4 linked regions of the Homo sapiens genome follow. The protein of the gene in region 4 purifies or fractionates together with the protein of the main gene of each other region. This does not show direct contact. Each region holds a gene or a part of one and is shown on either strand. Other genes may lie near its edges.

The links.
Region 1: the proteins of MYH7 (region 4) and TARS3 purify together in Homo sapiens (affinity purification with mass spectrometry; one large-scale study listed by BioGRID and IntAct). This does not show direct contact.
Region 2: the proteins of MYH7 (region 4) and CLSPN purify together in Homo sapiens (affinity purification with mass spectrometry; one large-scale study listed by BioGRID and IntAct). This does not show direct contact.
Region 3: the proteins of MYH7 (region 4) and CCNQ purify together in Homo sapiens (affinity purification with mass spectrometry; one large-scale study listed by BioGRID and IntAct). This does not show direct contact.

What each region holds. Positions count from the first base shown.
Region 1 is NC_000015.10:101,717,964-101,721,611, reverse strand, and holds part of TARS3 (threonine--tRNA ligase 2, cytoplasmic), read left to right. Parts: intron 1-289; coding exon 290-486; intron 487-3,648. UniProt on the Homo sapiens protein: Catalyzes the attachment of threonine to tRNA(Thr) in a two-step reaction: threonine is first activated by ATP to form Thr-AMP and then transferred to the acceptor end of tRNA(Thr).
Region 2 is NC_000001.11:35,745,969-35,749,616, reverse strand, and holds part of CLSPN (claspin), read left to right. Parts: intron 1-85; coding exon 86-150; intron 151-1,012; coding exon 1,013-1,212; intron 1,213-1,555; coding exon 1,556-1,710; intron 1,711-2,624; coding exon 2,625-2,851; intron 2,852-3,648.
Region 3 is NC_000023.11:153,596,330-153,600,583, reverse strand, and holds the start of CCNQ (cyclin-Q), read left to right. Parts: upstream 1-1,444; 5' UTR 1,445-1,510; coding exon 1,511-1,622; intron 1,623-2,421; exon of another isoform or gene 2,422-3,162; intron 3,163-4,254. UniProt on the Homo sapiens protein: Activating cyclin for the cyclin-associated kinase CDK10.
Region 4 is NC_000014.9:23,422,013-23,425,660, reverse strand, and holds part of MYH7 (myosin-7), read left to right. Parts: intron 1-242; coding exon 243-379; intron 380-636; coding exon 637-892; intron 893-1,511; coding exon 1,512-1,754; intron 1,755-1,937; coding exon 1,938-2,114; intron 2,115-3,335; coding exon 3,336-3,481; intron 3,482-3,648. UniProt on the Homo sapiens protein: Myosins are actin-based motor molecules with ATPase activity essential for muscle contraction. Forms regular bipolar thick filaments that, together with actin thin filaments, constitute the fundamental contractile unit of skeletal and cardiac muscle.

The DNA.
Region 1 (3,648 bases), on a different chromosome or scaffold from region 4:
GAGGCAGGAAAATCGCTTGAACCTAGGAGACAGAGGCTGCAGTGAGCTGATTTCGTGCCCCTGCACTCCAGCCTGGGCGACAAAGCAAGACTCCATCTCAAAACAACAGCAACAACAACAACAAACCAAAAAACAACAACAACAACAAAATCGTAATTCAAACCATGGTAAGCTTGGGACCATCTGTAGAACTGAGAAGGCAGTAAGGGGGTGAGCCTGATTCAGAGCTGAGCAGCTGGAAAACAGTAGGCTGTATATATTAATCTCATTATGTTCTAATAATTTCCAGGTGAAGCATCAACCAATTTTCATAAAAGAAAGATTGAAGCTTTTTGAAATACTGAAGAAAGACCATCAGCTCTTACTTGCCATTTATGGAAAAAAGGGGGATACAAGCAACATCATCACAGTAAGAGTGGCTGATGGGCAAACAGTGCAAGGGGAAGTCTGGAAAACAACGCCTTACCAAGTGGCTGCTGAAATTAGGTAAACCGCAGTGTGGAAAAGATATTCAATCTTAAGTAATTATACTGAAGCCTGGTGAAAATGTTTTCTTAGGGACCGCTAATATATTACTCCATTCTCACGATACTAAAAGGACATGTCTGAGACTGGGTTATTTATAAAGGAAGAAGATTTAATTGACTCACAGTTCCGCAGGGCTGGGGAGGCTTCAGGAAACTTACAGTCGTGGCAGAAGGGGAAGCAAGCATGTCCTTCTTCACATGGCAGCGGCAAGGAGAAGTGCAGAGCAAAGTGGGGGGAAAACCCCTTATAAAACCATCAGATCTCATGAGAATGCACTCACTATCAAAGAACAGCATGGAGGTAACAGCCCCTGTGATTCAGTTACCTCCCACTGGGTCCCTTCCACAAAACGTGGGGATTATGGGAACTAGAGTTCAAGATGAGGTTTGGATGGGCACACAGCCAAACCATATCAGCTAATTTTTTTTTTATTCAGTTGAATAAATTAAATGTATTTAATTTTTTTCCTCTGGCTTCTCCAAGGGCCATGTAAATAAGTAGTTGAATATCAGAACACAATCATTTCCTGTTCTAATAAAAATATATAGGAGAGAAAAAAATCTGTAATTCTTGATAGGCCATTTTACACTGACTTTATTCGTCAATCAAGTAATTTCCATGAGTTTTTACAGGTCTTTTAAGTATAGATTGAAGATAAATGTTTTAGAGCTATTATCAGTCTTGGAAAAGTGCTTTGACTTTTCTAGAAATTAGATACATTAGTGAACTTATATTGTTTTGACTCATGTTAATTCTTAGCATTAAATACAATTGTATAGAAGCTATTGTATAAATACAATTATATAGCTTCTATACAATTGTATTAATGCCATGTAAATAAATGTTCATCATTTAAAAAGCAAACTGTTTCAACAACTGAAATTCTCAGATTTTCTTTGAAAACTATGGCTAAGATTGTATTTCTGATTCATCCTATTATATTGTTAAATGCTCTCCCAGCCTGTTTTCATGTTTTCCAGGAGGAATGATGTGCTAGGAGAAAACAGGTTTTGAGGCAAGAATAAGTTTGTTTTCTCATGGAGAGTCAGGTTGCATGTTAAATGTGTTGGGTCAGTATTTCTCAAAGTGTAGTCCCCAGACCAGCAGCATGGGCATCACCTGGAAACTTGTTAGAAAAGCAAATTTGGGGATCCCACCTCAAACCCCCTGAATTGATCAGCCATCAGTGTTTTTATGAGCTCTCCAGGGGCTTCTAATGCAAGCTAACCGTCTAGAAGTGACCAGTCAAGCCTAGTGGACATCTCTGGTCCATGCAGTTATTTATGGACCCAGCTTCCTCCCATCTTGTTGATCTGCTGTCTCCTAGGTAGGGTTTCTTTGTGTCTAGCGGTGGAAGCTGGGTCCTTGCATGGGCCTGCCTGCAGTCAGGAGGAAGAGAAGCTGCAGAGCAATGATGCTTTGAGGCCAAGACCCCATAGTGGCTGGCTTCAGTTTCCACTTACATCCTCTTAGCTCACATTTAGTCACATGGCTATGCCTAGCTGTAAGAGAGAATTGGAATATAGCTCCCTTGGCCGCCCAGCCACATGTCCAGCTAAAGCATTCATACCATGGAAGAGAGGAATGGTTTATGGAACAACAGAGAGTCTGCCACAGTCTGCCCCTCTGACATCCAGATATCTGTGGGTACTCTTCTTTCAACATCTGACACACTCACTCCCCAAGTGAGACAACTCTTATGTTCCATAGCTCAAAGCCTGGGATTTCTGAGTGATGTACAGAACACCCCCCATCAGGCTGACCACTTGTATTCTAGCAACAAATAAACTGATAGACAAGTCTGCTCACACCACACGTGCATACAGTACACAGAAGACAATCACAAAGTGTGTGCTTGGAAAAAAGAAGGAGGAGAAATATAGCAGGGAGTGGTATAGAGAAGTCATCAGATTCTGCTTGAAGCCACCTTGAGGCCCCACAGCCTGGCAGCAGTTAGTGCTTGTGTCAGCCCACCTGTTCATCCTTTGTTCTCTGGAAGCAGCTGTCTTATCCCATGATCCTCCATGGGCCCTGATTTTGCACTTTGGGAAGTTCGGAGTTGTCCATTACCCTCACTTGTCACATCTGAAGTGCACGAGTTTGTCCTCTTGGGATCTGTGCAGTTTCCACAGCTCAGTTCTGTGGTGCACATTTGGGGCCTGAGGGTTCCCTTAAGGATCACATAGTCACAGATATTTGTGAGCTGAGCTTATGATTTGTTTGGCAATACAATTACCATGATCAGTTAGCCATAGTAGGCTCTGGTCTGTTTGCAGCTAATCCGTTCCACATGAAAGTAATCTCACTTAAAGAATCTTCTAGATAGAGACTTCTCACCCTGTTGTTGCATGGCTTTTTTATTCGGCTCACTCCTGTCTCCTTGTTTAATGGACTGAGATCATATGAAGCAGAGGCTTGTGGGAGGGAGGCACTCTTGCTCTCTAATCCTTGCAGTTCCACTGGCCTCTATTGTCTGGATTTATGTGTGGCCTTTGAGAAGGGCTATCAATGCCTGTCCCTCCTGCGGTTTGGGAAAGAAGATTGTCTTTCCCATCTTGCATAGCTCCACGTTTCTGAACTTTTAGTCAGTTGAATTACAGGACACGGGCAGAGGGAGCCTCCCTATCCCTTCCACCTCTGCTGGCAAACTAGATTGTTTTCATCTGAGATAACTCATTCTTGTAGCTTCTTGCTGAAAGCAACAAGAGTTACCCAGGGTATACCAACACTGTCCCCCCACCTCCACCCCGCCCCTTTTCTCGATCTTGGCTCACCACAACCTCCGCCCTCCGGTTTCAAGCGATTCTCCTGCCTCAGCCTCCCGAGTAGTTGAGATTACAGGCATGCGCCACCACACCCAGCTAATTTTGTATTTTTAGTAAGGATGGCGTTTCTCCATGTTAGTCAGGCTGGTCTCGAACTTCCAACCTCAGGTGGTCTGCCCACAGCAGCCTCCCAAAATGTTGGGATTACAGATGTAAGCCACCACGCCCAGCCCTACTCTCCCCTTTTATACCTGCTTTCTTGTGTGCTACAAGCACTGTGACACATGGTTTGCCTGCAAGTTTTATCAAATATTTTGATATACTATCACAAAGGTTATTGGCTCTCCATATGTTA
Region 2 (3,648 bases), on a different chromosome or scaffold from region 4:
AAGAAAACTTAAAATTGCCTTGGATTTGCCCCTCCTGTAAAAACTAGGAACAGATACTGAACCAATTTACTTTCTTATTTTGCAGTTACTTTCCTACTGAAGAAAAATCAGAAACAGATGAAAACTCAGGCAAGCAGCCTAGCAAACTGGGTAAGTAGTGATTCTTGTGCAGAACTTAACATTTCTTTTGTCCCTCAGCTTTGATATTTAAGGACTGCAGTACGGTAAGTTTCCATGTTTTTAAATCTGGTCACTTCCCAGTTTCATATGTAGCTATGAAAAGGGTTTATGAATTAGAATATTTTTCTTGGTCTATTTTTTGCAGTTTATTTATAGTAGACCATGGTACATAATGTCCTTAGTGAATGTGTGTTGATTGAGTGAGCAATGAAATGTTTCTGTATGTAGATCAAAGGAAGACGTATAATTGATTGGACAATGAAGAGTGTGATCATAGGCATTAGGAAGGATAAGAGAAAGAAGAGAACTTTCGGCCAGGCGCAGTGACTCACGCCTGTAATCCCAGCACTTTGGGAGGCTGAGGCAGGCGGATCATGAGGTCAGGAGATCGAGACCAGCCTGGCTAACATGGTGAAACCCTGTCTCTACTAAAAATATAAAAAATTAGCCAGGTGTGGTGGCACGCGCCTGTAGTCCCAGCTACTTGGGAGGGTGAGGCAGGAGAATCGCTTGAACCTGGGAGGCGGAGGTTGCAGTGAGCCGAATTCACGCCACTACACTCCAGCTGGGGTGACAGAGCGAGACTGTCTCAAAAAAAAAAAAAAAAAAAAAAAAAGAACTTTCAAGTGTCACTTAGCTCAGAGTAATAAGCCCTGATTATATAATGCTATCTTAGTACTGTAATTTACCTTTAACTTAATGTTTTGGAACATATAACTTGAGGGGTTTGCCTATGAATTTTATCTGACAGTTTCATCCTCAACTCTTTTTCCTAAACAAATCCACCTTATTTCTGTAATCATGTGCTTAAAAGGTGTTTCTCTTTCTTTAGATGAGGATGATTCATGTTCATTGCTAACAAAGGAGAGCAGCCACAATAGCAGCTTTGAGCTGATTGGCTCCACGATTCCATCCTATCAGCCTTGCAACAGACAAACAGGCCGTGGGACCAGTTTTTTCCCTACAGCAGGAGGATTCAGATCTCCTTCCCCTGGGCTATTTCGAGCCAGTTTGGTCAGCTCAGCTTCTAAGGTAAGATGGTAATGGTTTTTCTAATCTCCTCCTCTCTTTGCTTCCCACATTGCTAAATAAAGTTTGTCCCAGCCAACCAACTCCCACCACGTTGGTACTGAGCTTATGTGTGTTCAGTTTAAAAAATCCACCCCCTTTGTGTATTAAAAACAAGCTTCATCCAGTATTCTTACTTTCTTGGAGGTATTTTTCTTTATGCTTCTCATGGCTGTGTATTGTCCCCCTCAACTACAATTTCCTGAGAGTAGCTTAAATATTGCAAATAGCAACTTTTGTGGTTGTCATGACAATGACTGACATTTGTAAAATGTTTTGTTATTGTTTGTTTTTGTTTGTGTGCCAGAGTTCAGGGAAACTGTCTGAGCCTTCACTTCCCATAGAGGATTCCCAGGATCTGTATAACGCCTCCCCAGAGCCTAAGACACTTTTCCTAGGAGCAGGAGACTTCCAGTTCTGTTTAGAAGATGACACTCAGAGCCAACTGTTGGATGCAGATGGGTAGGTAGTTTTGTGTTTCTGTGGGCGGGAATGGTGCTGGGTACTGCTTAATTTTGTTTAAAAATAAGTGAGCTTCTGTCACTCCATCTGTGCTTTCTCTTCTGAGAAAGAGAAGGTGTACAGACCATTAGTATTACATTCTATAAGTTTGAACAAAGTCTGTCCAGAAAATAAACATAAATAGCTCTTGCTAACATTCTGGTCCTTCAATTTCTGTCTTATTTGAAATGCATAGATCTTGTATTGTAAGGTCATCAAATTTCCCTGTATCCATCCTGCTATGTTATTATTGTTGGGTAAGGTTGAGAATTCACAGACTGGTGGCACATTACAGGACATAATGCCAAGCCCTGCTCTAGCATCATCTGAAGCTAAAAGTTATCCTTTACACTTTACCTTCTGAGTAACATTTTATTCTTTCACAAAACTTTTCCCTCCCTCTTTAGATTAACACAAGCCTAAAGTTTGAATCTTTTGCTTTCTGGTTTGAGATTCAGCTTTTAACTGGTGTAGGAAATGAATTCAGAGGTTTTTCACCCCCTACTTTGCCATTTCTCTGAGGAATTTTTTTTTATTTTTTTTTTTGAGGCAGAGTCTTGCTCTGTCGCCCAGGCTGGAGTGCAGTGGCGCGATCTCGGCTCACTGCAAGCTCCACCTCCTGGGTTCACGCCCTTCTCCTGCCTCAGCCTCCCGAATAGCTGGGACTACAGGCGCCCACCACCACGCCCGGCTAATTTTTTGTATTTTTAGTAGAGACGGGGTTTCACCATGTTAGCCAGGATGGTCTTGATCTCCTGACCTCGTGATCCGCCCGCCTCGGCCTCCCGAAGTGCTGGGATTACAGGCGTGAGCTACCGCACCCGGCCCTCTCTGAGGAATTTTTTACACTATTCGTTGTGCTCATTGGTTCTTAGGTTCTTAAATGTTAGAAACCACAGGAATCAGTACCAAGCTTTGAAGCCTCGATTGCCATTGGCCAGTATGGATGAGAATGCCATGGATGCCAACATGGATGAGCTGTTGGATTTGTGTACTGGAAAGTTCACATCTCAGGCTGAAAAACATCTACCCAGGAAGAGTGACAAGAAAGAGAACATGGAGGAACTTCTGAACCTTTGTTCAGGAAAATTCACTTCTCAGGGTAAATATCCAACCGAGAGTATCAAGCTTACCACACCCAAGTATCAGTGCCCTTGAAAAGAATTCCCTGGGCGGGTGGGGTGGCTCATGCCTGTAATCCTAGAACTTTGGGAGGCTAAGTTGGATGGATCGCTTGAGCTCAGAAGTTTGAGACCAGCCTGGGCAACATGGCAAATCCCCATCTCTACGAAAAAAAAAAAAAAAATTAGCCAGGCATGGTGGCACGTGCCTGTGGTCCTAGCTACTTGGGAGGCTGAGGTGGGAGGATCTCTTGAGCCTGGGAGATGAAGGTTGCAGTGAGCTGAGATCACACCAGTGCACTCCAGCCTGGGTGGCAGAGACCCTGCATAAAAATAGAAAAAAAGAAAGAAAGAAAAGAAGCCCCTTACCCTCAGGTGAAAAGTTCACAGAAAACAGGGCTGTGATGGAATCTGTGTATAAACTGAATTCACTGCTTAGTGCCCTGATATTTAGAACTCTTACTTTCTTAGAGTGGTAAAGTATCAACTTAAGACTACTTTAGGCCGGGCGCAGTGGCTCACGCCTGTAATCCCAGCACTTTGGGAGGCCAAGGCGGGGGATTTCCTGAGCTCAGGAGTTCGCCACCAGCCTGGGCAGCACGGTGAAACCCCGTCTCTACTAAAATACAAAAAATTATCTGGGCATGGTGGCCCGTGCCTGTAATCGCAGCTACTTGGGAGGCTGAGACAGGAGAACTGCTTGAACCCCGGAGGTGGAGGTTGCAGTGAGCCGAGATTGTGCCACTGCACTCCAGCCTGGGCAACAGAGAGAGACTGT
Region 3 (4,254 bases), on a different chromosome or scaffold from region 4:
AAAATAAGGATGTCAAGATGAGCTCCTCCTGGATTATCTAGGTAGGCCCTAATCCAGTGACAGGTGTGCTTATAAGAGACAGACGAGAAGACAGGGAGAAGGCCATGTAGAGACGGAGGCACAGATTGGAGTGATGGGGCCACAAGCCCAGGAAGAACTCAGGCTGCAGAAGCTGGAAGAGCAAGGAAGAACTGATCCTCTGCCAGAGCCTTTGAGGGAGCAAAGCCCTAGTGTCACCTCCATTTCAGGTGTCTGGCCTCCAGAATTGAGAGAGGATATACTTCTGCTGTTTTTAGCAACCCAATTTGTGGTCATTTGTTACAGCAGCCCCAGGAAACTAACCCAGCTGGGATGGAGAGAGGACTTGGGGAGGCTGGTGGAGGCAGGAAGTGCTGAGGAAGGAGAATGAGGCCGGACTGGGTGTGTGGGGTGGGGGTAAGAGGTGGAGACTTCCACACCATCAGGAGATCAAGGCGCCTGGGCAGAAGGGTTTAGGGAGCAGTAGCTTTTTCCTCTCCATATTGCCAGCTGTCTGAAATTGTAGCAATGATCTGAATGTATCAGAATGACTCCAGTGACTGTCACTAACTTGGGAGTGAGTACCTTTGGGGTTCTATGTCCCTAAAGCCTGATGCACCATTTCCTGCTTGTGGAAGACGCGAATGAAAAATGAGATGGTAAATACCTGAGTTCGATATTCAGCATTCATTCAGCAAACATTTATTAGGCTCCTACTGTGCGTCGCGCTGGAAAGGCAAGCAGAAGCTAGATTCCCAATCGATCCCGGGAGGCTGGACGATCCAGACACAAACACCGTTCATGCGTCTATTCGAAAAGGCCCTCTTGGAATTTTGTGCACAGCATTTCCTTGGGGTGTCGATGGATCGGGGTCTGCAAACATTAGCACCTTTTCCGGTGGCCGCTGTCTTCTCAGACCTCAGACACCGGCGCCTCCCCGTGAACTCCCGCAGGCGTCCCTAGCCCAGGGCTTGGCGGGCGCTGCCGGTTGTACCTGGCCTAAGCCACGCTGGGCCGACAGCCCGGGGCGACACCCCCTTCGGACGGCGGGGATTTGCGGCTCGGGTGACCGGAGGTGCCCTCCCGCGGGTCTCGGAGCAGCTCCGCGGGCTCTCGCTCCGCGGGGAGGAGCCTGCGTCTCCCAGGGGCGGGGCTCGAGGCGCCTAGGGGCCGGTGGACACATACCAGCCGCCCCGTGGTGTCGGCCTCTGCGCCTGCGCCTGCGCCTGCGCGCGCGGCCAGGCAGCGTCTGTGGCGCAAGCGCGCGCTCACCCTTGGGCGAGGGCCCTGAGGGGCGGGGCGGGGCGGAGGAGCGGCGGGGCGGCGAGGGGCGGGGCGGGGCGGCGAGGGGCGGGGCGGGGCGGCGAGGGGCGGGGCGGGGCGGGGCCGGACGCGGCCGGGTGGGGCGGCAGCGCCCGCCGCGAGCACCTCCAGTTCTGCCGGCTTCTGCGCGCCGGGGCCGCCTCTCCTTCCGCCGGTGCCGCGGCGCCTCATGGAAGCCCCGGAGGGCGGCGGAGGGGGGCCTGCAGCGCGGGGCCCGGAGGGGCAGCCGGCGCCCGAAGCCAGGGTGCACTTCCGAGTGGCGAGGTTCATCATGGAGGCAGGTAACCGCGGCCGGGGGAGGCCAGGACAGGCGGCGCCGCGGCCCGCTTCGCGGAGCGGGCCCGGCTGGCCAGGCCGGCCTTCTGGAGTGCTCACCGTAGCAGAGGCCGGGAAGCCCTGCTCGGGGCTGAGGACCTCCGCCTTTGCGCCGCGCCCGGTGTGCTGAGCAGTGAGCCGCGAGGTATCCCCATGGCGTGGACCGGTGTGCAGGCCCTAGGAGAGGACGTGGCCGGGTTGGGCCTCCAGCGAGGCGGAGACCGGCCCGGGCGCCCGCAGCTCTGCGCAGTGCGCCACGCCTTCTGCCGGCACCCGCGGCCCTGCACTCCGGTAGACTTTATGGCGCTTAGTCGCGCGGAGCCTTTTGGAGAACGCTGTCCGAGGGTTCCTGTCACTCCGGGGACCTAGGCTGCTTGCAGCTCCTGTTCCGAACCCTGCCAGGACATCCACAGTAGTGTTGGGCTCCGCGCTTCCCAGGCGAGGTGATTAAGCTAAGATCTCTGTAGAAACATCGTTTCCATCCAGCCATCAACAGTATTTTTTTTTTTTTCGAGACGGAGTCTCGCTCTGTTGGCCAGGCTGGAGTGCAGTGGCGTGATCTCGGCTCACTGCAACCTCCGTCTCCCGGACTAAAGCAATTATCCTTCCTCACGCTTCCGAGTAGCTGGAATTACAGGTGTGTGCCACCGTACCCGGCTAATGTTTGTATTTTTAGTAGAGACGGGGTTTCACCATGTTGGCCAGGCTGGTCTTGAACTCCTGGCCTCAGGTGATCCAGTTGCCTCGCCCTCCCAAAGTGCTGGGATTACAGGCGTGAGCTACCTCGTCCGGCCCATCAACAGTATCTTGATAGGAGATACTGTTAGTTGGCGGGTAGTTATTTCCTACCTTTACTGCTTGGGGGAGAAGGGTTGGGCAGATGTGCTTTCTACCCAAGGTGGGCGGAGAGTCTGAGGACTGCTGCAGGACTGTTCATCCCAGTGATATGTAAATTTACTGTAATTTGCAAGAAGAGTTGCAAAGTTATTATTAGGGAAGGATGGCAGTGACACCTCATCTGCTACCGTCTGCTCGGAGGGTCCGTGTAAATTGGGGTTTGCTCTGTAAAACAAAGCTTGGAAGGTCATGTCAGTAACAGCACCTTATCTGGCATCTCCTGGAATGAGGGGTCCCAGGTAGGAATTGTCTTTATATAACAAGTTTAGACCTTCTGAGGGACTTCTTTATAAAATGTATTACACAATCCTTTGTCCTTTGTAGGAGGCTAAATATTGATTTCCCAAAGATGTCCCTATCCTAATCCCTGGAACCTGTGAATGTCATCTTATATAGCAAAAGAGATTTTGAAGATGTGATTAGAGACCTTAAGATGGGAGATCATCCTAGATTATCTGGGTGTAACCACACCCATCCTTATAAGGCAAAGGCAGGAGGAGTCACCGTCAGAGAAGGCCACGTGAGGACAGAAGCAGAGTTAGAAGCTTTGAAGATGGAGGAAGGGGCCAGCAACCAAGGAATGCAGCCCTCCTCTAGAAGCTGGAAAAGGCAAGGAAACATTCTCCCATGGAGCCTCCAGAAGGAGCCAGCCCTGCTTAGACGTTGATCTTAGCTTTCTAGGCTAGTTTTGGACTTCTGACTTCCAGGATCGGAGGAGTATAAATGTGTGTTGTTTAAGTGGCTGAATTTGTGGTGATTTGTTGCAGTAGCCCTAGGGAACTGATCTACCTTCTTAGGCAGAGGATGCTGACTGTCATTTCATGGTTGATTGTCGGTTGTTCTTCGCCTTTCTGTTTTGGCCTAGTGGATGTCATTTAACCTTGTCTTGTGAACCCTGGTGGTTGTGAATTTGTTTTGGTTCTGTGCACCAGGGCAGTGATTTTCTTAGGAGCCATTCAGGGATGGGCTGGGGATGGGCTTTAACCCCTAAGTAGAATCCACTGAATCCTGCTCTGGTGTTTTGAGTTTTGTTCACCTTAAAAATTTTTTTCTTTCTCTTTTTTGTAGAGACAGGGTCTCACTCTGTTGCCTAGGCTGGTCTCGAATTCCTGGGCTCAAGCAATCCTTCTGCCTCAGCCTCCCAAAGTGCTGGGATTACAGGCGTAAACCAGCATGCCCAGCCCACTTTTCAATGTGCTGGTGTCCTTCCCTGGTGCCTGGCTGTGGCCATAAACATTGCCTTTTCTCTGCAATGCAAGTGGTTACTCTTGGCAGTCACGCTGCTTGCTTTGCTCACCTCTTCTAACCTGTGGACTACGAAACCAGTGCTCAGTGTAATCTTTCACTGTGACTTCAGGACTTGTGGCACCCACGAGGCCGTTTCTTTTCTGTCGTCGTAGCTGTGGGGTGGGCGACTTCTAGCTAGCTGTTTGCTAAGGTGAACCCAGACACACAACAGCATATAGTCCTTTTCCAGGGTTTTGCAGAAGCTGCTATGCCAGTTGCTAACTGAGCGGTCCTCGGAACCCTTGTTTCCCAGAGCGTGGTCTATAGACCCCTGACATGGGCATGACCTGGGGCTTGTCAGAAGTGGAGAATCTCAGAGCCGCAGACCTACAAAAGGGGAAGTCTGCATTTGAACACCATCCCCAGGGGCTTGGGTCACCCACTAGAGTCTGAGAGCCCAGTAAGAGACCCAGC
Region 4 (3,648 bases):
ATCTCTTTTCCATTGACTCCTCTGATGCTTTTCCTGTTGTAATCATCTTAGCAAAATCTCTTACCTGTATGCTACCCCTCCCAGTGGAACATCTAGCACCACTCCCCTCATCCCAGCTCCAGCTGCCATTGACCTCCTCCCTGCAATCCTTTTCTAGGCTGTTACCCTTCCTAAGGTAATCCCCACCATCTCTTTCCCTCGTACCCCTCCCTAGTCATGGCCAACACACACCTTGCCTGCAGGTGTTCTTCAAGGCCGGGCTGCTGGGGCTGCTGGAGGAAATGAGGGACGAGAGGCTGAGCCGCATCATCACGCGTATCCAGGCCCAGTCCCGAGGTGTGCTCGCCAGAATGGAGTACAAAAAGCTGCTGGAACGTAGGTGAGAGATCTCAAGAGGAGGTTTCCCGCTTCTCTGAGGCCCAGGCTGGTTCAGGGGCAGTGTCAGGAAAAAAAGCTCAGCAGATCTTCAAACACAGAGACCTGCAGGAGGGGCTCATATGAACACACTGCAGTCACAGGGTCAGAGGCCTCAGGAAGGGTGGGAGGGATGAAGGAAATGGGATATTCCCAAGGTTTCAGGACCTCAGGTAGGAAGGAGGCAGGAGGCTCAGCACTCCTTTCAATGGGCCCCTGCAGAGACTCCCTGCTGGTAATCCAGTGGAACATTCGGGCCTTCATGGGGGTCAAGAATTGGCCCTGGATGAAGCTCTACTTCAAGATCAAGCCGCTGCTGAAGAGTGCAGAAAGAGAGAAGGAGATGGCCTCCATGAAGGAGGAGTTCACACGCCTCAAAGAGGCGCTAGAGAAGTCCGAGGCTCGCCGCAAGGAGCTGGAGGAGAAGATGGTGTCCCTGCTGCAGGAGAAGAATGACCTGCAGCTCCAAGTGCAGGCGGTGAGGCTCCTGGGCTACTGTTGGCTCTTCCACCCTGCTCTGCCTTCACTTCCCACAACCCTGCACCTCCCTGCACAGGGGCTCACTGTCTTGTTCCTTCAGTCAGAGGACTCTGGGATCAACACTTCTAAAGACCTCCAAAGAGGTCCCTCAGGAGGAGGAAAGGGCAGAGGGAAAAGAGCTGACTTTTAAAAGCACAGGCTTTCTACTTGGGTTCAACCTAGATACACAGCTTAATTATTTTGTGACCTTGGGCAGACCATGCATCATCTTTGAGCCTCAATTTCCTCTAGACAGGGAATAAAGCTGTCCATTTCATTAAGCCATCATACATAAGTGCTTGGCATCAGCAAATGCAATTCCCACCCTTCGATGGAGGAGACCAGAGGAAGAGGTCCAGATGAAGATTTCTGGTTCCTTTCCTCTCTGCTCCCCTCCCCAGTGTTCCCAAGTTATACTATCCTGAAACTCTTCCCCTCCCCATACTTCTGAAGCTCTTGCCAAGTGGGGATATCCTAGAGTTACCCTCCTATTTGAGTGATGTGCCTCTCCTTCCCTCTACCTGCAAGAATGAGGACCTTACCCCCTGAACAGCCTCCCCTCTGTTCCTCACCTTCAGGAACAAGACAACCTGGCAGATGCTGAGGAGCGCTGTGATCAGCTGATCAAAAACAAGATTCAGCTGGAGGCCAAGGTGAAGGAGATGAACGAGAGGCTGGAGGATGAGGAGGAGATGAATGCTGAGCTCACTGCCAAGAAGCGCAAGCTGGAAGATGAGTGCTCAGAGCTCAAAAGGGACATCGATGATCTGGAGCTGACACTGGCCAAAGTGGAGAAGGAGAAACACGCAACAGAGAACAAGGTAAGGGCAGCTCCCTTTGGCTCCAGCCCGGGTCTCATCAGGACTCTCAGACCATACTGACCTTGACCCAGGCTAGCCACTCGGCATCCAGAGAGCAGCATGGACCTTGACATGGAGCTCCCCACAGATGGCACCAAGCTGGTGACCTTTGACCCTAAAGGAGATGGGATTCTTGGTCGGCAGGTGAAAAACCTGACAGAGGAGATGGCTGGGCTGGATGAGATCATTGCCAAGCTGACCAAGGAGAAGAAAGCTCTGCAAGAGGCCCACCAACAGGCTCTGGATGACCTTCAGGCCGAGGAGGACAAGGTCAACACCCTGACTAAGGCCAAAGTCAAGCTGGAGCAGCAAGTGGATGATGTGAGTAGATTGAGAGTTGTGGGGCCTAGATATGCCATGTCTATCTGTGCCCAGAGCTCTGTGTGTGTGTGTGTGTGTGTGTGTGTGTGTGTGTGTGTGTGTGTGTGTGTTTGTGTTTATGTTTAGAGGGGGGTAGGGTTAGAGGATGTTAACTTTTCTGATATCTTTCTAGAAAGGAGCTGGGGAATGAAAAGTCAGAGGTGGTGATCAATTCTGAATTATGTATCTAATCTCACTGGTATGATCAATAATAGAGATGAGTTTTCTTATTTAATTTAAGTGCAATCCCATATATCTCTGCCTTTGACACAAGATTTAGAGGGTCATCTCATAAGAACATGATAAATTTCTTTGGAAATTTTGTGAGGCTCCCCAAGTAGAATTTTTGAAATTCCAATATTTAAGGCAGAATCTGATCATTGTTCCCTCTGATGCACATATGTCTGTTGACTCACTTATCACTCTGTATTTTAATTATTTAAGCTTCTATCTCAGCCATAAGACTACAAGCTTCCTTTAGATAGGAACTTAGATCTATTCAATTTGGGGACTGCAGTGCTTAGCACAGAGCCTGATGCCCAGTAGGTGTTTATAGGATGCTGAAAGAATGAATACGGCGGCCAGCCGCGGTGGCTCACACCTGTAATCCCAGCACTTTGGGAGGCCAAGGCGGGTGGATCACGAGGTCAAGAGATCGAGACCATCCTGGCCAATATGGTGAAACCCCATCTCTACTAAAAATACAAAAATTAGCTGGATGTGGTGGCGTGCGCCTGTAGTCCCAGCTACTCAGGAGGCTGAGGCAGAATAATCCCTTGAACCAGGGAGGCGGAGGTTGCAGTGAGCCGAGATCGCGCCACTGCACTCCAGCCTGGCGACAGAGTGAGACTCCATAAAAAAAAAAAAAAAAAAAAGGAGGAAGGAAGGAAGGAAGGAGAGAAAGAAAGGAGAGAAAGAAAGAAAGAAAGAAAGGGAAAGAAAGAAAGAATACGGCTTTGGGGTTTCATCCCACAGTCATTTATTCCTTTATCTATAAAATATTGATTCAGCATCCCCTATATCTAGGCAATCTCACAGTCCCCTAATAACATTTGGCCCACTCTGGGGAAGGTTTCCCAAGTCCTGAACACAAAGATTTACCAAGTCCTGAGGTAACTGAACAACAAAATCACCAAGTCAGGATGCTTTGCCTCACTGGGCCTGGCTCCTTCTCTCTACCAGCTGGAAGGATCCCTGGAGCAAGAGAAGAAGGTGCGCATGGACCTGGAGCGAGCGAAGCGGAAGCTGGAGGGCGACCTGAAGCTGACCCAGGAGAGCATCATGGACCTGGAGAATGACAAGCAGCAGCTGGATGAGCGGCTGAAAAAGTACTGTGTCCCCTCCCTGCTGCCCTTCCTCCTCCCCAGCCCATAACAGTACAAGCAGACCCAAGACAGCCATCCTCTGAGGCAACAACCTCACGCAGCCTCCACAAGTGGAGGCGCAAACCATGGGAAAAGGCCTCCCAGGCAAGGGCTTTCCTCCCCTAGTCCCA